2 separate regions of the Homo sapiens genome follow, and region 1 is linked to region 2. The links come from fine-mapping of genetic effects on plasma protein levels. Region 2 holds a variant in brackets. A gene starts in the other region. All regions are shown on their forward strands. Region 1 holds the start of GFRA3 (GDNF family receptor alpha 3). Region 2 overlaps LOC124903082 (a long non-coding RNA gene).

Evidence for each region. PIP is the posterior inclusion probability: the model's chance that the variant is causal. Protein levels are from antibody-based Olink assays in UK Biobank. Linkage for the fine-mapping came from a reference panel and not from the study's own genotypes, which makes the PIPs less certain.
Region 1: GFRA3 starts here. The variant in region 2 is fine-mapped to the plasma level of the GFRA3 protein (UK Biobank, PIP 0.93).

What each region holds. Positions count from the first base shown.
Region 1 is chr5:138,270,483-138,281,708 of GRCh38, forward strand. It overlaps GFRA3 (GDNF family receptor alpha 3), which reads right to left and starts at 4,139. Exons shown (of 8, transcript NM_001496.4): 1 at 3,852-4,139. The coding sequence starts at 3,942. RefSeq lists silencers at 3,862-4,051, 4,142-4,231.
Region 2 is chr12:115,301,061-115,312,649 of GRCh38, forward strand. It overlaps LOC124903082 (a long non-coding RNA gene), which reads right to left. Exons shown (of 11, transcript XR_007063592.1): 9 at 9,654-9,838; 10 at 2,715-2,906; 11 at 1-1,952. Among named protein-coding and RNA genes, the nearest start is that of LINC02463, 580 kb to the right of the region's middle. The variant C/T (reference allele first, on the strand shown) is at 5,516.

The DNA of each region.
Region 1 (11,226 bases), not on the chromosome of region 2:
TTCTCACTGATATGTGGGAGCTAAGCTATGAGGATACAAAGGCATAAGAATGATACAATGGACTTGGGGACTTGGGGGGAAGCGTGGGGGAGGGGAAGGGATAAAAGACTACAAATAGGGTGCAGTATATACTTCTTGGGTGATGGGTACACCAAAATCTCATAAATCAGCACTAAAGAACTTACTTATGTAACCAAACACCACCTGTATGTACCCCAATAACCTATGGAAAAGAAAAAGTATATCAGAATTTCTCTAGGAAATATGTATTTCCAAAAAGCATATTTGATAATTTTACATGTACAAGATGAAAAAAAAAGCTTTTGAGATTTCAAAAAGTATTTAAGGAAGGTATGAGATTTTATATATTTACCAAAAGGGGAACATGGATTTAAAAAGATTGAGGAATTTCTACAAGTTTACGATGTTACTTCCGGTAGGTACTGAATAAGTGGTAAGTACACAAAGAAAAGTGGCAGATTCAAGTTCTATTGTTGTAACTGGACTAAAAATAATTTTTTTTTTTTGAGGTGGAGTTTTGCTCTTGTTACCCAGGCTGGAGTGCAGTGGCGCGATCTCGGCTCACTGCAACCTCTGCCTCCCGGGTTCAAGCGATTCTCCTGCCTCAGCCTCCCAACTAGCTGGGATTACAGGTATGCCCCACCATGCCTGGCTAATTTTGTATTTTTAGTAGAGATGCGATTTCTCGATGTTGGTCAGGCTGATCTTGAACTCCCGACCTCAGGTGATCTGCCCGCCTCGGCCTCAACAAAGTGCTGGGATTACAGGCATGAGCCACTGTGCCCGGCCATAAATATTTAACTGTACTAACTATTGAGTTGTAAACATTTTCAAAAGAAAACAATTTCTTAGTTGACACTTTACCAAGTTTGAGCAGTGATGGATTTAGGGGCATTCATCTCAACAAAGAACTTGGGGGCCACGTTAAATTTCATCTCAACAAGGTGGAACCTGTGTTTCCTGGATTGTGAAACACAGGACTTGATCCAGGGCAAAGGTCATAATTTGATCCAGTGTGCAAATGTGTCTTTTTTAGTCAGCATAGTTCCGTTCCTTTCTTTTTCTTTCTCCTTTCTCCTTTTCTTTTCTTTCTTTTAATCTCTGTCACCCAGACTGGAGTGCAGTGGTACAATCGCCACTCACTGCAGCCTACAGTCTCGACCTCCCAGGCTCAGGTGAATTCTCCCACCTCAGCCTCCCAAGTAGCTGGGACTGCATGCATGCACTACCACGCCCAGCTAATTTTGTATTTTTTGTAGAGATGGGTTTTCACCATGTTGCCCGGGCTGGTCTCGAACTCTTGAGCTCAAGCAATCCACCCACCTTGGCCTCCCAAAATGCTGGGATTATAGGCGTGAGCCACCATTCCCGGCAGTATTTTCTTTTCTGTTTTTTTTTTTTTTTTTTTTTTGTGTGTGTGTGTGTGTGTGTGTGTGTGTGTGGTTTGGTTGTTTTATTTGTTTGTTTGGTTGGTTTTTTTTGCACGTTCACAGTATTTTCTTTTTCTTTTTTTTTTTTTTGAGACGGAGTCTCGCTCTGTCACCCAGGCTGGAGTGCAGTGGCGCGATCTCAGCTCACTGCAAGCTCCACCTCCCAGGTTCACGCCATTCTCCTGCCTCAGCCTCCCGGGTAGTTGGGACTACAGGCGCCCACCAGCATGCCTGGCTAATTTTTTCTATTTTTTAGTAGCGACGGGGATTCACTGTGTTAGCCAGGATGGTCTCAATCTCCTGACCTCGTGATCTACCCGTCTCAGCCTCCCAAAGTGCTGGGATTACAGGTGTGAGCCACTGCACCCAGCCAGTATTTTCTTAAAGTTGTAATTAGTGGCCAACATTTAAAAATCAGATTTTAGGCCGGGTGCGGTGGCGCACACCTTTAATTGCAGCACTTTGGGAGGCCAAGGTGGGCAGACTGTTTGAGCCCAGGATTCAAGATCAGCCTGGGCATCCGAGATGGCAAAAACCCGTCTCTACAAAAAATACAAAAATTAACCAGGTGTGGTGGCACACTACTACAGTCCCAGCTACTGGGGAGGCTGAGGCAGAAGGATTACTTGAGTATGGGAGGTTGAGGCTGCAGTGAACTGGAATCACACCACTGAACTCCAGCCTGGGTGACAGATTGATACCCTGTCTCAAAAAAAAAATCAGATTTCAAATAAAACTATTAATTTCCAATTTGTCTTGAAAAATGGAAACACTCGGGCCCACATGTAACGGGTGGAGTAATGACTGCCCCCTTTTGACAAGTCATGCCTTTTCCAGCTTGTTATAGTCCATACCACTTTCTATTACTTGCCCCACCTCCTCATTTATACAGCCACTGCCACGTCTATTTCATATTGATTTGTTAGCAACCTGGTTTTGTAACTTTGTTTTCTGCTTCTTGGCTCATCAGAGAATGAGTAGCTACAGAATGGGTCAGATCAGGCTATGCCTCAGGGCACAAGATCCTCATTTGTTTCTCATCAGTGAGGCCCACAACCCAGGTATCCATTTTATAGTTGGATGAACAAAGAAAAGTAATGTGCACCAGGGGATGTAGCAAGTCAAGACCGAGTCAAGGCTAGAACCCAGGACTCCAGCCTCCTATCCACTTCAGAATGATTTTCAGTACATGACACCACTTCCCCATGAATCGGAGGTCTCCTATATGCTTGGCTTTAGCAGGCCCTGAGCAATGATATTTTCCACCCCCAAAGCCCTCTGTTGGTCTGTGCTCTTGAAGAGCACTTGGCTCTACATGGTACCTCCTAGATGACTGTTTTATGGATTTTCAATGAGGCTACTTAACCAGATGTCATTGCTGTCAAGTATTACTGTGGAAAATAGATCTGTCACCAACACTGCTTCATTAAACCATTTAATGAGAAAGGTGTTTAATGTTTTCCCCTGATCCTGACATGCAGCCATAACCTTTAGGATTAGTGAAATTTCCTGGGCAGTCAAATCAGACTGGTGATGTCTTGCTGCCCTGACTTACTGATGTTGGCAGGTGGACAGACCAGGGTTTTTCCTCCTTCCTTCCATATCTGTCTCAAGGCAGCATTTCTACAGCACTGCGTTGTGGACTGAGGTCTCAGGGCAGTGTGGTGGTCTCTCTGTCTCAGGAGTCCCTCCATTCAGTCTCTGGGCAGGAGCCGCATAATAAGATTCCACACACCCATACCACTCACGAAGGCCATGGGCCTTCCAGGGATCTCGGATCCCAGGCTGTTCTTCCTTGGGGGAGTGGCCTGGTTCTAAAACCAGGCCTTGAACTACATCTACAAAACATCTATTGTGGATTATTTATTATCCAAGGGGCAAGCCACTGTGCTAGACGGCTTGCAAGGCCTGCTATTGTAGAAGGTTATGAAACAAGTCAGTTTTAACGAACTTCTTTTTCTTCACCTGTACCTAGTTTCTTCCTCAGTCCTTAAAGCAGATGGAAGAGTTAAAGCCCACGTGGAGCAAATGACACTCTGTTTCTGATCTGATTCTCCCCGCCTCTTAGAGACGCTGTCTTGGTAGTGACCTGGCTGTGGGTTGTTCTGTGACTGTGTAGACCTACCTCAAAAGAGGGAAGAGGGGGGAAAAAGGGGCGAGGAGGAGATGCTTGGGTGGCCAGGCCATTGCTGGCACTCAGTCTATCTCAGTTCGTACACTGTGTTAGGTGTGACCCCAGCCCCTTGCAGGCACCCTGGGCTTCCTGCTCCAGTTCCCCTTGTTCGGCTCGGATGCACCGGGAGGCTGCTGCGCCCTCTCCGGACAGGTGCCCCGGGCCTCGCCTACACCTCACCTCCCCCTCCCACTGTACCCCCGGCCGGTGCGCGCTCTGACACTCACCGGCTGCGAGAGGCAGCGGCGACGGCGGCAGCAGCAGCAGCAACATCAGGACTACGGGCGGCAGCGGTCGCGGGTTCAGGGGGCGCACCATGGCGAGCTGTAGGCGCCGGGCTCCGCGCTCCCCTCGCTCCTCCCCTGGAGCTCTGAGAGCGGGGCTCCCTCGACCGGCACCTCCCGCCCCCGCCTCCCGCCCTCCAGCGCGACGCACACACTCTCCCACCAGGGTCCTGGGCGCCGCCCTCCAACTCCGAAGCGCGCGTCCACACCACGCGCCTCCAGCGCTGGTCCGAGGGACCGCGGGGGTGGGGGCGGGGGAGGGCCGGCGCCCCGGGAGCCGCCGGGCTTGGTGCGGAAGAGGTTGCTCTTTCCGAGGCGGCCCACCTGCTGTCTGACAAGTTCGACTAGCAAGACATTGTGGAAGCTGCCGCTGGAAACTCGCCATCTAGGAGAACCAAATATTTCTCCAAGAAAAGCACCCTTTCTCACTTTCTGGATCCCACTCACCCACACATCAAAGAACAGACACCACCACAAAAGAGATTTTGTAACAAAACTTGAACAAGCCAACACAAGGGCACTTGCATTTCTAGTATTTTTCTTAGAATTTGCACATCTATGATCTCGTTTTTTCCTCTCCTAAGTGTCTTCTAGGGTAAGATTGGGTGGTTATTAAGCTCAAGATGCTGCAAAGATGGGTCGCAGACAGGTGGAATGGCTTTGCTGGGGGAGCAGACCTGGGGCATTAGATTCCAAAATTCAGCCCCGATGGTGTCGTGAGGGAAGATGGAAGATTAAACTCTCCACTAAATAGCAGAGATTTCCTTGGACCAAAGCTCACTGAGGAAGGTGCCTGGAGAGACCATTTAGGAGCCCATCCTTTTCACATGATGAGACTTTCGGAGAGCAAGCTACTCTATCAGGATTAAACAACTAGGTAGAAACACATCTGTGCCCAGAACACAGGACGTCTACCCATAAGGATAAGGGTATTTATTGGGCCTGGGCCTGATTCCCACAAGATCCCAGGATAAAGCCAGAAGCAGAATGGCTTGGAAGAATGAGAACTAAGCAGCGCATAGAAAGAGAGAAGGAGAAGAGGGTGATGAAAGGAAGTGGAGGGTTTCATCCCCTAACCCTCTAACTTGACCCCCTCCTTACTTCCACAGCCAGCCTGGCAGAGGGCCAGCAGGGAGTACTGAGAATCGCAATATAAACCTCTGAGATTTATTGGCTGCTGCTTCTGAATATGGCCATCCTGCTGTGGCCTCTGGGGGGCATTTGCCGATGTAATCAGCCCAGAAAGAGAGTCATTCCAGCTGGGGGTGTAAATCACCCTTGGCAAAGCTAGGAGAGAGACATGTGGCCCTAGATAAGGAAGGAGACTGATGTGGCCTCTGTGCCCTTCCCTCCCTTCTCCTGCCCAGGGGGTGCTGGTTCCTGAGCTGTAATGCACTTTAAATGGAGTTTGTCCTTCGTTTTAATCTATATCTGCCCTGCCAGTTTTACAGAAGAGCTGTAAAAGTGAACATCTGGCTACTCAGCTTTTGTACAAGGCCTGTTTTCCCCCAGCTCCACCCTATCTCCATGTGCCTTTCCCAAGCCCTCCTCTCCAGAAAGGTGAGGGAACATGAAGCTGGGGGGCTACCATTAAAGGCCCCATGATGTCAGGCCCTCTACCCCATTGCCAGAGAGAAATATGCTCCAGGCACCTCATTTTCTCTCACACCTGCTATTACAGGCAGACAATCGTTTTTTGGGTTTTTTTTTTTGAAACTGACAATACTTAAGAAAGGAATTTATAAAGCAAAATGTAACAATTTCAGGCTCTTTGGGATGATAGGAAAGGGCTGAGACCCATGAACCAACAAAGATGTGAGGTGGTCAAGGGGTGTCTCCTCTGCCCTCCCCCTCCTCCAGCCCAAGCCAAATCATGTTATGGGCAGGAAGAGGGTTTGGGAAAGGAAGTTTGCTCAGGGTGCCTACTCTGATAGATACTCAGTGTCTATTCCAGGGCTGTCCCCACAGAATAGACCAAGAATGCAGTATCAAGCTGACGGGCTGGGAGCAATGACCAATCCCACCTGTAACAGGCCAGCCTTTTCATGAGAGAAAATAAAGTGTCTGGTGCATATTTCTGTCTGGGTACAGGGGTGGAGAGCCTCATATCATTGGGCCTTTAATGAGGATTGGAGAAGCTCTGCAAATAAATATGACTCCAAGACTAATATTGACAGCCCTCCAGCACACCCTCTCCACCAACCATGTCCTCTGTGACTGCCAACACCTGCTAGATAAGCAGCATTGCCCCTTGTGGACAATGACAAATGAGCCAGTCCTTTCTACAGAGATGATGTTACTCATCCATCATTCAATTCAATAATGTGTTTTGAGAATGATTATGAGCCCAGCTTTATGCTAGGTGCAAAATGATTAAGACACAAATCCTGCTCGGGGAGGGTGTTACAATCCACTGATTGCAACTCAAATGCCCAAAGACCCTGTATCTTATTCCACTTTCACTTGTAATCTCAATTTTCTCCTCTTATGGTCAGATTACATGGATTCTACCTTCTCTCAAGTCCTCTCTCTCTCCATTGAGCTTTAATTCCTGCTGCTATCCTAATCCAGGATGTTAGCAGTATAATAAATAGTTAAGACCACAAGCTTTACAGACTGCCTAGATTCAAATGCCGACACTAGCTGGATGACCTTGGGCAAGTCACTTAATTTTTCTGTGCTTCCATTTCTTCACCTGTAAAATTAAGGATAATAGTATCTATTTCACATTGTGAGGATTAAATGAGTATAGTATTTAAATGAAGGTGTAGGCTGGGCGCGGTGGCTCACGCCTGTAATCCCAGCACTTTGGGAGGCCAAGGTGGGCGGATCACGAGGTCAGGAGTTCAAGACCAGCCTGGCCAATATGATGAAACCCCATCTCTACTAAAATTACAAAGATTAGCCGGGCATGGTGGCACATGCCTGTATTCCCAGCTACTCGGGAGGCTCAGTGGGGCAGAAGAATTGCTTGAACCCAGGAGGCGGAGGTTGCAGTGAGCCAAGATCATGCTATTGCACTCCAGCCTGGGCAGTAGAGCGAGACTCCGACTCAAAAAAAAAAAAAGAAAAGAAAAAAAAAGGTGTAGCATTATACCTGGCATATAGCAAGCATCGAATAAATATCATCCCAGGTAGCATGCAGGAGTTAATTATTCTGTGTGTGAACTTGGCCAGACCCCACCACCCGACCTGCTGATTTGGAGCTGGAAGTGGCACTTTTTGCTCCTTTTGCTGAATATACTACTAGACCAGAGTGCTTGTAGGGATGGAAACAAAAAGAGCCATTTTTTATTTTTCTACCTTGTCAATTTCTTGAGGGCAGGGACTGTGTCATATTTTAACAACTGTGATACTCAGAATTGGCAACTCCAGATGCATATGTTTAAAGGAATTGGTGTTTCCTTAACCTATGCCTGAACAGAACAGGGAGAGAATCCCCCATGCCTCCTACTTTATACTCCTGATAAAGAAAGGGAAATATTCCTCCTTAATATAGTTTGGATATTTGTCCCCACCCAAATCTCATGATGAAATGTAATCCCTAATGTTGGAGGTGGGGCCTGGTGGAGGTGTCTGGATCATGGGGGTGGATCCTTCATGAATGGCTTGGGCCATTCTCTTGGGGATAAGTGAGCTGTCACTGAGTTCACAAGAGATCCAGTCATTTAAAAGTGTGTGGCACCTCCTCCCATAACTCCCTCCCTCTCTTGCTCCTGCTCTGGATATGTGACATGTCTGCTTCTCCTTCACCTTCTGACATGATTGTAAGCTTCCAGAGGCCTACCCAGGAGCTGAGCAGATGCCAACACCATGCTTCCCATAAAGCCTGCAGAACCATGAGCTAATTAAGCTTCTTTTCCTTATAAATTGTTCAGTCTCCCAGGCAAGCATGGTGGTCAGCCAGGCATGGTGGTGTCGGCCTGTAGTCCCAGCTACTTGGGAGGCTAAGGCAGAGGTTGCAGTGAGCCAAGATCATGCCACCACACTATAGCCTGGGTGACACAGTGAGACCCTGTCTCCAAAAAAAAAAAAAAGCCGGGCGCGGTGGCTCACGCCTGTAATCCCAGCACTTTGGGAGGCCGAGATGGGCGGATCATGAGGTCAGGAGATTGAGACCATCCTGGCTAACACGGTGAAACCCCATCTCTACTAAAAATGAAAAAAAAAAATTAGCCTGACGTGGTGGCGGGCACCTGTAGTCCCAGCTACTCGGGAGGCTGAGGCAGGAGAATGGCATGAACCCAGGAGGCAGAGCTTGCAGTGAGCTGAGATCATGCCACTGCACTCCAGCAGGGGTGACAGAGCAAGACTCTGTCTCAAAAAAAAAAAAAATTACCCAGTCTCAGGTATTTTTTTTCTTTTTCTTTCTTCCTTTTTTTTTTTTTTTTTTTGAGACAGGGTCTCACTCTACTGCCCAGGCTGGAGCACAGTGGTGCAATCATGGCTCACCACAGCCTCAACTTCACATGCTCTAGTGATCCTCCCACTTCAGCCTCTCAAGTAGGTGGGACTACAGGTGCACACCACCACACCTGGCTAATTTTTAAAAATTATTCGTAGAAGGCCAGACGCAGTGGCTCATGCCTGTAATCCCAGCACTTTGAGAAGCCAAGGCAGGTGGATCACCTGAGGTCAGGAGTTTGGGACTAGCTTGACCAACATGGTGAAACCCTGTCTCTATTAAAAATACAAAAAAATTAGCCAGGCATGGTGGCAGGCGCCTGTAATCCCAGCTACTTGGGAGGCTGAGACAGGAGAATCACTTGAACCCGGGAGGCGGAGGTTGCAGTAAGCCAAGATTGTGCCATTGCACTCCAGCCTGGGCAACAAGAGCAAAACTCCATTTTTTTTTTTTGAGACGGAGTTTCGCTCTTGTTGCCCAGGCTGGAGTGCAACGGCGCGATCTCGGCTCACTGCAACCTCCGCCTCCCAGCTCTCAGGTTCAAGTGATTCTCCTGTCTCAGCCTCCCAGGTAGCTGGGATTACAGGCACATGCCACCATGCCCGGCTAATTTTTGTATTTTTAGTAGAGATGGGGTTTCATCATATTGGTCAGGCTGGTCTCGAACTCCTGACCTCAGGTGAGCCGCCCGCCTTGGCCTCCCAAAGTGCTGGGATTACAGGCGTGAGCCACCGCACCCAGCGAAACTCCATCTTAAAAAAAAAAAATTCTTCGTAAAGACAGGGTTTCACCATGTTGCCCAGATGGTCTCAAACTCCTAGGCTCAAGTGATCCTCCAGCCTCAGTTTCCCAGTGTTAGGATTACAGGGTATTTCTTTATAGCAAAGGAAGAATGGCTTAATACATTCCCTTCTCTATGGCAGAGGTCACCCAGGTCCTGGGCTGAGATTGACAAGAAGCAATTGCAAAAAAAAAATTTATGTATATTTTTTGAGACAGAGTCTCCCTCTGTCACTTAGGTTGGAGTGCAGTGGTGCAATCTCAGCTCACTGCAACCTCCACCTCCCGGGTTCAAGCAATCCTCCCACCTCAGCCTCCTGAGTAGCTGGGACTACAGACATGCACCACTGCACCTGGCTAATTCTTAAATTTTCTGTAGAGACAGAGGTCTGACTATATTGCCCAGGCTGGTCTCAAACTCCTGGATTCAAGCAATCCTCCCACCTCAGCCTCCCAAAGTACTGGGATTATAGGCTTAAGCCACCGCACCTAGCCCAAGAAGCAGGTTTTTGTTTGTTTTTGATACAGAGTCTTGCTGTTGTCACCCAGGCTGGAGTGCAATGGTGTGATCTTAGCTCACTGCAACCTCCACCTCCCAGGTTCAAGTGATTCTCCTGCCTCAGCCTCCTGGTAGCTGGAATTACAGGTGCCTGCCACTACTCCTGGCTAATTTTTTTTTTTTTTTTTTTTGAGACAGAGTCTCCGTCACCAGGCTGGAGTGCAGTGGCCCAATCTTGGCTCACTGCAACCTCCACTTCCTGGGTTCAAGCACTTCTCCTGCCTCAGCCTCCCGAGTAGCTGGGTATTTTTAATAAAGACGGGGTTTCACCATGTTGGCCAGGATGGTCTCGATCTCCTGACCTCGTGATCTGCCCACCTTGGCCTCCCAAAGTGCTGGGATTACAGGTGTGAGCCATCATGCCTGGCCTGTTTGTATTTTTAGTAGAGATGGGGTTTCACCACATTGGCCAGGCTCCTCTCAAACTCTTGACCTCAGGTGATCCACCCTCCTCAGGCTCCCAAAGTGTTGGGATTATAGGCATGAGCCACAGCGCCCAGCCTCGAGAAGCAGTTTTTAGCTCAAAACATTTCTGTTCAATATTTCTTTACCTCCTGATGAATAAATACCAGTGCAAGGACACCAATGCCGAGCACACCCCCTACATAGCCTCATACTGAGGTCTCTGGGCTGGGGTTTTAGTGCCTGCTCATATCCTTATCTCTCAAGCCAAAGCAACCCTTATGGCCCTAAATTCTCAAGAGCTTACCATTGAGGCTCTTATAGATTTAACACCCAATACAGGGCCAACTCTGGAAAGGCACAGTGGTTTTTTTTTTTTAGACAGGGTCTTGCTGTCATCCAGGCTAGAGTATAGTGGATGGATCATAGTTCAATGCAACCTCAACCTCCTGGGCTGAAGCCATCCTCCTGCCTGACCCTCCCCAGTAGCTATGACTACAAGTGTGCACCACCATGCCCAGCTAAGTTGATTTTTATTCTATAGAGATGGGGTCTTGCTATGTTGCCCAGGCTGGTCTTAAACTCCTGGTCTCAAGGGATCCTCCCACTTTGGCCTCTTAAAGTGCTAGGATTACAGATGTGAGTCACTGCACCTGGCCAGGCACACTGTTCTTTGATGAAGGTTTGGTAACAGCAAAATCCATGAAGTGGACAGGCTCTGGAGCCATACTGTCTTGGGTCAAATCCCTACTCCACCATTAATTAGCTTTGAGATCTTATTACTTGACTAGGTGCAGTGGCTCACGCCTGTAATCTCAGCACTTTGGGAGGCTCCAATTGAAGACTAGAGCTCAGATTGCCTCCATGAAAGTTAGAAGGGAGAGGGCTGGGTGCGGTGGCTCACAACTGTAATCCCAGCACTTTGGGAGGCTGAGGCCGATGGATCATGAGGCCAGGAGTTCGAGACCAGCCTGGCCAACATGGTGAAACCCCTTCTCTACTAAAGATACAAAAAATTAGCCGGGCATGGTGGTACATGCCAGTAGTCCCAGCTACTCAGGAGGCTGAGGCAGAATCGCTTGAACCTGGGAGGCAGAGGTTGCAGTGAGCCGAGATCGCGCCACTACACTCCAGGTTGTTAACAGAGCGAGACTGTGTCTCCAAAAAAAAAA
Region 2 (11,589 bases):
TCAGGCTCGGCTCAGAACTCCATCCAGAAGTTCAGATGTTTCTCCAAATCAACTCCAAGGCATCTGTCTGTCTCTGGGGGCCTCCTAGGAACTCTGTCTAAAGCTCCAGAAGACCGCATTCCTGGTGAACCTTCAGGCAGCACCACCTCCTTCTTGGCTGAACAGATGATCACTTCAAAGTTCTCCTTTCTTGTGGTATTTTAGTACCTCTGGCCTTGGCCAGAAACCATCAACCCAGAGGCGTATAAAAGTGAAAAAGAAGAGAAGAGAGAAAACATCATTTATCAACTCCCCTACTCACACCTAAATATTGTCAAAGAGTTTTGTTTGGACCAAGTTTGAGTTAGGGTGAAGATCCAATGAGACCTTACAGAGTTTGTTAACTCTTGTTCTATTTCCCCACTTATATCCTCTTATACCAGAAGGAGCAAAAATCACCCACCAAATAGATGGTGTCATATTTACAATCTTCCAGCTGCTCAAAGAACATCTTCTAGCCATGCAGTGAGAGGGGTGACACAATGCACAGGAGACCTATGCTTGGTGGACAGACATACCTCTCCTGAGCAAGGTTGTGTAGAAAAGAGTTAAAGAGCAGATGGGTTGGAAATCACATTTTGGTTTTGAGATCCCAGTTTCACCACTGAAGTACTCCATCTCATACTCTCTCCTGCTCATGGACTATAGTCAAGCTGTACTGTCCATGTTTCTGTTCCTCTAAGGTTGTTCCCACCCCACTGTCTTTGCACCTGCTATTCCTTCCATTTAGAATGATCTTCCACAAATCTTTAAACGGTTGCCTCCCGTGACTTGAGTTGCACCTCATCTACCACCTCTACAGAGAGGTCTTAACTGATCATACCGGCTAAAGGAGTCCACACCACCTCTGGCCATTTTTAAGCACATTGCCCTAATTAATTTATTACATAGCTCTACTCTCTGTCTGAATTTGAATGACAGTTTTTAAAATTTGTTTATATGTTAATTGTCTGTATTTTCCTCTAGAATATAAGCTCCATGAGGGTAGGAATTTGTCTTCTGTTTGCTGGGGTATTTTTATACATCTTGAAGAATTCCTGACACATAGAATGTACTCAATATATATTTATTATTGCTATTGAATAAATGATCTCCCTGGCTAGAGTGATTGGTTTAGGGCTGATCATGTGATTTCACCAGGGTGATGTGATTTTGGCAGGGCCAAAGCTTTTCGGGCTTTTTCTCTTGAGTTAATGGAAAGAGAAGTCACTTTCCACTGGCCACACTAGAGGACTGTGGGTGTTGAGCTAACAGAAGACATTTCACCTACTGGGTGAAGAAAGCCTGCCCAAGAGATGGCTTGAGCCCTGACCACAAAATGTAGATGATGTCTGCAACTAGAAATGTCTACCTTTGGCATCTTCAGCTACAGTGACTCTGTATCCACCATTTCCTCCTCCCCCTATTCAACAGCAATGCAGAAAGCTTAAGTTGCACTGGGTGTCTGTCATTCACAATTGATGCAGTCTAAGCAATCCATGTGGGATTGTGGCTAGATCTACATTAGGTCCTGCTTCTACCACTTCCTAGCTAGAGGACGCTGTAGCAGGTTGAATGCTAGTTCCCCCGAAACATGTTCACCATGTAACATTTGGAAAAAGGCCCTTTTTAGATATAATTACAGATCTCGACAGGAGATCATTCTCAATCATCCAGGTAGGCCCTACATCCAATGATAGTGTCTTTATAGGAGAAATACAAAGGCAAATTGGAGAGACACAGAAGAGAAGGCCATGTGAAGACAGTGGCAGAGATTGGCGTGACACAGATACAAGTCAAAGAATATCTGGAGGCTCAGAAGTTGGAAGTGGCAAGGAATGGCTTCTCTCCTGGAGGTTTTGGGGGATGTGAAGTTCTTCTGACACCTTGATTTTGGCCCAGTGATACTTATTCCAGACTTCTTGCCTCTAGAACTGTGAGAAAACACATCATTTTTGTTGTTTTAAGCCACCAAGCTTGTAGTAAATTGGTACAGCAGCCACAGAAAACTAATACAGATCCCCAAACTCTCTCCTATTTCAATTTCCTTTTCAGGAAAAACAAAACACTGATTTCTCCCAGTTTTCATCAAAGAAGGAATCAAATGGAAATAAAATTAACCTGGGCCCAAATCACAGCTCTGTTCCTCACTAGCTGTGTGACCTCCGGCAGCTCTTGTTTTCTGAGTCATGGTTTTATAATTTGTGAAATGGGTGCATTCATAACCCTCTCCCCATAAAATCTGCAGAAAGGATTAAATGCAGTAATGCCTGTAAACTTTTCTGTGCAGTGCCTAGCACATCATAGATACTCACTGGATTACCAGACTATTCTGGTCATTATATACTTTCATATACGTGCATTTGCTTTGTATCATAGGGGAGTCACTCTAAAAGAAAGTCTTGAACTATTATTTCAGGAAACTTTGAAATGTCTGTGAACAGGATGTTGACATTTTTAGATCAGTGATTTTCAAATGTCGTAGTTAGTTGCTGATAAATTATTCTGAAAGATAGTTAAATACAGAGATCACTGGATTCCTTCAGACGCTTCTTAATTGGGAATTCAAGAAGTAGGGCTGTGAACCTGGATTTTAAACAAGCAGAGCGACATGTGGAAGCCATTCTTTTTAGATTATAATTCCTATTATTATTACTTTGAAAGCAGTTGCTGAAAATGTGCCAGACACAACCTACCCCAGTGAGTGCTGTCCGAGAAGCTGGACCCTGGTCTCCTCTCTCACTCCAAGCCTCTGCAGCCAAGCATACTGTGCACTGGAGGGTTCAGCTGGACAGAGCCTCTCCCCAAGGTGGTTCCCACTGGGACTATATTCAGGGAGTCAGCGAGAGTTTTCTCCAACTCCCACAGACCTTGTGATGTGGTGTTCCCTGTCGGGTGAGACAGAGGGAACATATGTGAGGAACACATATCATAAACAATGGAATCCATAAATCTTGGGCACGTTGTCTGGTTCCTTAATTCCAGTTGCAGAACAACAGTCAGGACCAGGAATTGCAGGCAGATCTGCAGGCTGCCCCAGTCTGCCTTCTGAAGGCCAGTTGCTGCAGAGAGAAGCTCATGTTGGCAAAAGCTTTTTATCTATCTGTGATTTATCACCCTACCTTTTTTTTTAATGGAAGATGCAAAAACTAAATAACTTAAAAGACAGTCTCTAACATTCTTGCCTGTAGCCTTAGGAAGCATAGGCCTTAAGTGATGCTCAGCAAGTTTGTGAAAACCCCAACTGTTTCCCGAGACAAACTTCTTTTGTTTTTTTTTTTGTTTGTTTGTTTTTTGGTGATGAGACATCCATTTCATGGTTTTTTGTTTTTTAATTTCGGTAGTTTTTTGGGGTACAGGTGGTTTTTGGTTACATGGATAAGTTCTTTAGTAGTGATTTCTGAGACTTTAGGACACCCATCACTGAAGCAGTGTACACTGCACCCAGTAGGTAGTCTTTTATCCTTCACCCCCTCCCAAACTTCTCCCCTGAGTCCTCAAAGTCTATTATATCACTCTTATGCCTTTGTGTCCTCATAGCTTAGCTCCCACTTATAAGAGAATACACTATATTTGATTTTCCATTCCTGTGTTACTTCACTTACAATAACAGCCTCCAGCTTCATCCAAGTTGCTATAAAAGACATTATTTCGTTGCTTTTTATGGCTGAATAGTATTCCATGGTGTACATATACCACATTTTCTTAATCCACTCGTTGATTGATGGGCACTTAGCGTGGTTCCATATCTGTGCAATTGCGAATTGTGCTGCTATTAACATGTGTGTGCATGTGCCCTCTTTATGTAATGACTTCTTTTCCTTTGGATAAATACCCAGTAGTTGATTGCTGGATCAAATGGTAGTTCTACTTTCATTTCTTTAAGGAGTCTCCATACTGTTTTCCATAGTGACTGTACTAATTTACATTCCCACCTGCAGTGTAAAAGTGTTCCCTGTTCACCACATGCATGCAAGGCAAACTGTTTGGAAGGAAAGCTGTTCCCTGAGTTCAGATTCTGCTTCTATGTTATCTGCATTTACTTGTTTTCTGGCATTCACAGAGCTAAGAATACAGTAAAGTATTTCCAGCACCTACATCTCTACCTAATTAAAAAAAAAAAAAAAGCAAAGAAACACTGAGACAATGCTTTGTTTCAGGAACAAAAGAAAGTTTGTATACCCTTAGCCTGCATCATTCATTTGTATGCCAGATCTCTGAAAGGAGTTTGTAAAACCTGTTCGACTGAGCTCCTGGTACTGGAGGCCTGCAGACTGGGAGAAAGGACTGGATTCCAACCCCAATCTCGGGACTAGATTCAGTGTGTGGGTTCTGGTGCTGACTGGCTGACTTGAATCCTGGTTCCCTCACTTCCTGAGTAACTGCACCTCAGTTATGTAATCTGTAAAATGGGCACACCTACCCTTACCTCTCACTTAGGGTGGCTGTGGGAGTTGAAAAGGGCTAGTTGAGCATGCAATAAGTTCTACAGATATGAGCTAGTAGCACTATCTTGGGAAGTTTTCCTAATTTCTCTAGGAAGGCTAGACATGCGGCTAATTCTTCCTGACTCAGAGGAGTGTGGTACGGTACTGATGAGACAGCACCTCTTCTGTGTGTAGCGTAGAGCCTGGAACACTTAGGTACTGAACCGAAGTCGGGTGTGTGTTTTCCCATGAATGGGCAGAAGTGGAGCTTGCAAACGCTTTTTTGCAAGAAGTAGCAGTTATCACTGAGTTGCTAATGACTTAAAGAGAAAAGAATCCCCATTACTGAATAGAGAGACATTACACCCAATAACCAATGAGTCAGGGTACGGCATGGGTGTGATGATTGGGGGACTACATGAGAGAATAAACTCTACAGCGAACCCAACAACCCAGAGCCTCAGGCCACACTTTTCCATGCCAGGGTGCTGTCTTCTCAGGCTGCAGACACACAATAAGATGCTGTTCTCACAGTGCCAGATCACAATCTTTGCTGGGAGGGTCTGTTAGCACCATGAACTTGTTCTGTTCTAACAGCCTGTGCTCACCCTTGTCTAGTGATGATTTAATGCTTTAAGCCTCTGAGATCAGGGCCAAAAATAAAATGGTGGGGAAATCAGACACAGCGCTAGATACCAGCAATATATTTAGGGAACAGGAGCATTTGTTCTGCCCATTTTCAAGTTTCCATTTTCTTTTCTTTATGACCTTCTGGCACGTGGTTGAGACATGGAAGCTTCCAGTAGATTACAGGGTGGAATAAAGGTGTTTCCATAAGTAACACTGCAAATATAATTCATTTTACTATTGATCACTGGGAAGATGGCAGTGAACAGAACAGACAAAACATCCCTGCCCTCTTGAAGCTGGCATTCCAGTGGGGTGGAGGGTTTGGGCCAAAGAATGACAGAAGATGAAAGGGCATTTGTCCTCTCCATGTTTTTCTCTAATAAGAGGCCCTAGGCGAAGTTCTGCTGATGATTGTGTAAACTGAGCCTCTTGCACAATCC[C/T]AGTGCAAATCACACTGTGGACGATGTCAGTGGCCCTCCCTAGAGTCATCCATCACCTAACCTGTTTGACCATAAGCTGCAGTCCTGAAGATACAGGGCAGGAGCTAGTGTTGGGTTACATTGAGATGAATACCCAATGCCTCAAATGAGAAACGAAAACATACATAGAACAAAAGGTGCTACCGGTGGGCCCTGCTCTTCTGCTTGCATTCGTCTGAATATCTAACAACAACTGCAGCATCCATCATCTACCGGGAAGCGACAGTGTATCAGAGCCTGTGTCAGGTCACACAGATAACAGGAATTGGGAATCAAGTCATCATGATTAAGCAATTAAAGAGACTCTCTTATTAAACAAAGACCATGGCTAAATATTGAAATTGGGAAAAGGGCTTTTCTTCTCACGGCCTTTGGTTCTACGATTTTTTTTTTTTTAGAGAGATGGGGTCTCATTATGTTAACCAGGCTGGACTCAAACTCCTGGCCTCAAGCCTTCCTCCCACCTGAGCCTCCAGAGTAGGTGGGACTACAGGTGTGTGCCACTATGCCTGTCTTAGTCCTACTATTAACTCTCCTAGAAACACTAGTTTCCACCCTAACTCCTCTCGCTTTCTCCTTCCCTCCTCTCTCTCTCTCTCAAATTCTCCCCATACTCAAACCTACCTCATATGCTGTTTCCAACATGAAACAAAAGCCCCAATGATGCACAAAACAAAGCCTTGTGAATGTCACTCATCCTTGGATTTTTGTAACATCCGCTGCTGGCACCTGACACCCAGTGGAGGCTCAACGACTCTTTTTAGTTTGAAAGAATAACAAGCAGAGAACTTTTTTGGAGCATGTCTTATTCAATTATGTATTTTTTTTTAAAACCCATGACTTTGAATTATGATTCTAGATACTGATATTTATATTTTTTAAGCCCCAAGTTTTTTGTATCATTAGAACAAAGTTTAGTTGTAACAGAGTCTCAAACTAACAGCAGCATACCCCCAGTAGAAGTGTCCTGCTCTCTCATATATAAATCTGAAGGGAAGAAGTCTAGAGCTAATGGGAGGCTTTTGCAGGTCAAGTCCCCAGAGGCCAAGGCTCCTTCCAGATTTTGGCCCTGCCTTCCTTAGGATGTGGCCCAGGTTCATGTAATCCAAGTCGACTGCCAGGACTGTCATCATGCTATTCACCTTCCAACCAGCAGGAAGGAGAAAGGAACAACAAATGAAAACAAACAAATAAATAAACAAGGGTCTGAGCTAGCTGTCTTTTTAGGAAAGATATTATAATGTACTGGCCAAAGCTTAGATATATGGCCAAATCTAGTGACAAGGGAGGCTGTAGTCTTTATTCTCAGGGACTGTATGTCCAACTCAAATGATGTATATGTGCTTTTTTTGGTTGCTATTCTAATTCTTCCTTCTCCGAAATGAGGAAGCTAGTCTGGCTAGGAACTTGCCATGAGGGTATAGCAGCAGGAACCCTCATTTATATCCCAAACCAAGCCCTCATTTATATCCCAAACCTAGCCCTGCTAGAAAGCTCAGCATTTGGTGCCATTGAATGTTGGCTAGGTTATTCATTCATATCCGTTATTAATAAAGCAGTGGCCTGCTTCCTGCTTGGCGGGTATTCCTTATGTGAAAATCTCCCTCTGTTAGGACCCTTTTAGGGAGAAGAGGTGAATGGCAAAGCACTGTGATCTCAAGCTTTGCACCATTAGCCCATAATTGAAACCTCATCCCCACCTCTAATAGGCCCTACATTGTGTAATGCGCTATGTAGAGCTGCTGTCATTCATTCATCACAAAATCCACATGTGATTTTTGTTATCCCCACATTACAGAAGAGGAAGCAGAGATGCTGAAGGTAGACTATCTTTCTCAAGCTCACTGTGCTCTCTCAGAAGAGGCAGAACACAGGCTCCAAAGCCAGTCTCTTGACTTCAGCCACTAATTTAACTCCAGCTACATTTTATCCCCTCTTCTCTCATTTTTCCCTTGTTTTAACTTCTTCATGAAATTACATATTTTATTTTTGCATTTCGTTTAATCTCACTTTATTGTTCTTGTTTTTATTGTTATTTTTATAATCCCACTAAATTCTTACCAGAACAATGAAAAACATGAATTGTCCCATATCATTGTGGATGCCCATGTCTTCCCCACTGAACTCTGAGTTCTCTGAATTCCGTGACTGGGCCTTTCTTTCTGCAACCTCGGTACCTCCTCCCAGCCTTGGCACATGGTTGGCTCTCAGTCCATACTGGAAAAAAGGATGCAGTTCCACCTCCACCTCCTTCTCCAGACCTAGCCAGCAAGTTGGAATTCCAGTCCCTGGTGGGACAGTCATTGGTTTTTTGAGCAATCTCTGGCTGGTTGAGGATGGGTTTTCTTTGATCTGTCTGGGTGATCTCTGGGGACTAATGAAGCCAAGCTGGGCCAGCAGATTTGGTCAGCATCTGGGACCATGGTTCCATGTGGTAATTGGAACATGACTCCAAAGGAACTGTGTCCATCATGCCTGGACCTATTATTTCATTATGGTGACTGAGCTTCCGGAATATTGCAACCCCTGCCTTACCACACCATGTCTTTCTGTGGGAGAGTCTTTCATCATTGTTTCCCATGGTGTCCAGTCTGAGTATCTCAAAATAACTTGCCTTTATTGGCTGTTGTTCAATAAGTTAATCTGTACTCATTCATTTGATCTTGGCAATAACCCCTTGAGCTAGAAACTAATATTATCTGCCTGTTATGGATGAGAAGACCAACACATGTAATGAGGGCAGTTAGCTTTCTCAAGGGCACACACTGGCAGAGCTGGGGCTCAAATTCCAGTGTTTCAGCCCCAGAACCCGGACTCTTAACCACTCCATTATATGGAGGCAACCAAAACATGGTAGCCACACAGGTGTAGAGCATACTGTCATGCTCAGCATGCTTCCTCGCAATGTAGCATTGACCATATGGGAGGCACAAATTACCAACATGTGGGCCTTTCTTGACCAGTGTCGTGCTACTCTGAAATGATAGAAGATATGAAGTTGGTTGTCAACTGTAGTGTTTTGACTTACACACACTTAGGTCTGGTTTTTAGCTCTGTAACTGGGTGAGGCAGCATCTTTCAAGCTATCTGTCCACCTTCTAATGCCACCTTAACTGAGTTCTTCACCCACAGTGATCAATCCCCACGAGGCCGTATTATATCATATGACCCCATCCACCTGCAGCCTCTGATATGTGACTAGGATTAAACACTTGACAGAAGCTAAGCCAATAGAAATTTTGTGCCCAGGATTCTGAGAGGGAGAGTTGCTCTATTTATCTATTTAGATGTCTTTTTTTTTTTTTTTTTTGAGACAGGGTCTTGCTCTGTCACACAAGCTGGAGTGCAGCGACGTAATCATAGCTCATAGCAGCCTCAAACTTCTGAGCTCAAGGGATCTTCCTGCCTCAGCCCCCTGAAGAGCTGGGACCACAGGTATGAACCATAATGTCCACCTAATCTTGTTACTATTTATAGTGACAGGATCTTGCTATGTTGCCCAGGCTGAACCTAAACTCCTGGGCTCAAGCGATCCTTCTGCCTCACCCTCTCAAGATGCTGGGATTACAGGCATGAGCCACTGTGTCTGGCCTATTTTTGTGTTTTAATCTTTAATATGAAAGTTTGGTGGTGGTCATCTTTGATCACTCTACACATGAGAAAAAGAAAGCTATGAAGCTAAGGGGCAGATAAGACAGTAAACGTAAGCCACATTTTTCTAGCTGTTCATTCTTGCCCCTTCCCAAAATCCACCTGCCCCTCTATCTTTGGTAGACCATCTAGTGCTTTATTTTTCCCTTGAGATAGCCTCTGGATTTTATTACTTGTAACCGAAAAGACACAACCTCTGTTCGCTCCACCTGGAACATAAATTTCTAAGCTTTTTGCAATGTTAACTCCTTATGTAATTCAGCTTCTAAGTTTTGCCTCAAATCCACCATTTACATGGAGTTCTTAAAGCACTGTAATTACTTAATAATATTTAATAGTGAATGGATAAATGAAATCTTACCAATACTTAACGTTACTTTGAGAAAATTCATTCACATCTCTGAACCTCAGTTTCCCCAACTGTGAAACAGAAGCATAGAGAGCCAACCTCAACAAGGCAGCTGCGGAGACTGAAAATAAGGTGTGCAAGGTGCCCGGCACAGAGGAAACACTCAGTGAACAGCAGCCACTCTGGACAATGATCTGCAGGCATCCCCAGTGATAGGCAATTGATTCCTGCCCCAGGTAATGTCCTCTTTCTATGTCTTGGCTCGAACCTCCAGCAGGGTGAGACTGTGGAAAAAGGAATAATCTGAAATTAGATTTGCCCCTATGATTCCCAAATCAGAATCCATTTTCATTTGATGTCTCTATGCCCTGAGTAGAGCAGCTGTGCCGGGGATTAAATAAGGGGGACAGATCTGTCTTCTAAAGAAAGGAGAATTTTCCATACTGGTCTGTCAGGATATTTGCTTTCCCACTGTTTGTCTGGGTTGGATCCCAGATTTGCTGTCACACTGGCCTCCTCCCTTGCAATAGCCAGAGATCATATTAAGCGTCCACTCATGGAATTGAGAGGAGAGATAGAAATGCATTAGTGTCAAGATCTCCAGGGTGCATCTAAAATAAATATGATTCCTCTCTTCCCACTCCTCACACCATATGCGGGGGACACCCAGTGTTTATTTTTCAGCTGCGCCAGCCAGTCTGGAAGAGGACACCATGGAAATGGGAGAAAAAGGATCAGGGTGGTGTAACATATCACTGGGGGAAGTTTAGGGCCCATCACTCAACAAATAACAAGTCAACAACCCCTGTCGCTTGGATATCCCCTGTGAAAGCTGCATCACCCTGTTTCACAATAACTTTAATCTGACTGTGTAAATTCAAGAAGTTCCCATGGCTTGTAAATGACTGGCACAAAGTGGCCCGTTAAAATAATTCAGGTTCTTTGCAAAGAAAAAAAAATGGGGGCAGCTTTAAAATAAACCACAATGCATAAGTCACCAATATGTCAGATGTTGGTGGAAACCAGCAAACTAAACTTATATTGTGAGGCCATACACAATTTTTTTCTTTAATCAGCCTGCTTTCCTCTCATGGGTGATTGGAGCTAAATTTTATAATGTGGTAGAAAAGACGCATTGGTGTTAACTTAATGTGGAGTTAACTTGTAGTACATTATGTAACTTCGGGCAAGTAACTTTTACGTGAAACTCAGATTGCCCATCTAGAAAATGAGAAAATTGGACAGTAGGTAGGAGAGTATATATTTGGCTCACAGGTCATAACTCTCTATTGTCGCATCCACAACAGACATCACTAGTCACTCATTTTATTTATTTTTCCTGTTGAACCCAGATGAGGTCTCAGGATTTATCTCAGCTGAGAGTTTCAGGGAGCCACTACCCACTGATAAAAGATAGACTTTGAGAAGAAGCTTCTCTGTCATTCCTACAGCAGATGATTCTTGAACGTTCTTTGCATTGCACAAGCACTGTGTCATGTGGGCAATCGGACATGCCACCTCCACCCTACATAAATTTGTAGAGGTACTTCTTACCTTCATACCTTCAACCAAACTCGGTAAGCTGCCTTTGAAATAAGTTCATTAGGAGGTAAGATTTCCAAATAATACTTTGCACTCAAGTCTCAAGTTTTTGTTTGTTTGTTTGTTTTTATTCATCAAATTGCTCATCCCATGAAAGCTTCAGGAGGAGATGTAACTAATTGCATGGGAGAACTACATGGAGATGGCCTCAGAGCAATTCACAGGACTGTTCTGAATTGTCAAGATCTGCCTTGGATCCAGAAGACCTGGAAGCTTTACCAAACTTATACATGAAATTTCTCCACAGACCCCAGCTCAGCCCCACCGACTTGGTAGTGACTCTTTTTTTTTTTTTTTTTTTTTTTTTTTTCAGATGACCAATGAAAGGATCGGTCTGCCTCTCCAAAGTCCTCAGAAAGAATACCAAAATTGTGGCTAGGTCTGAGAAAGTTTTTATACAATGTCATGGGATTGGTAAATCCATTGTAGCACT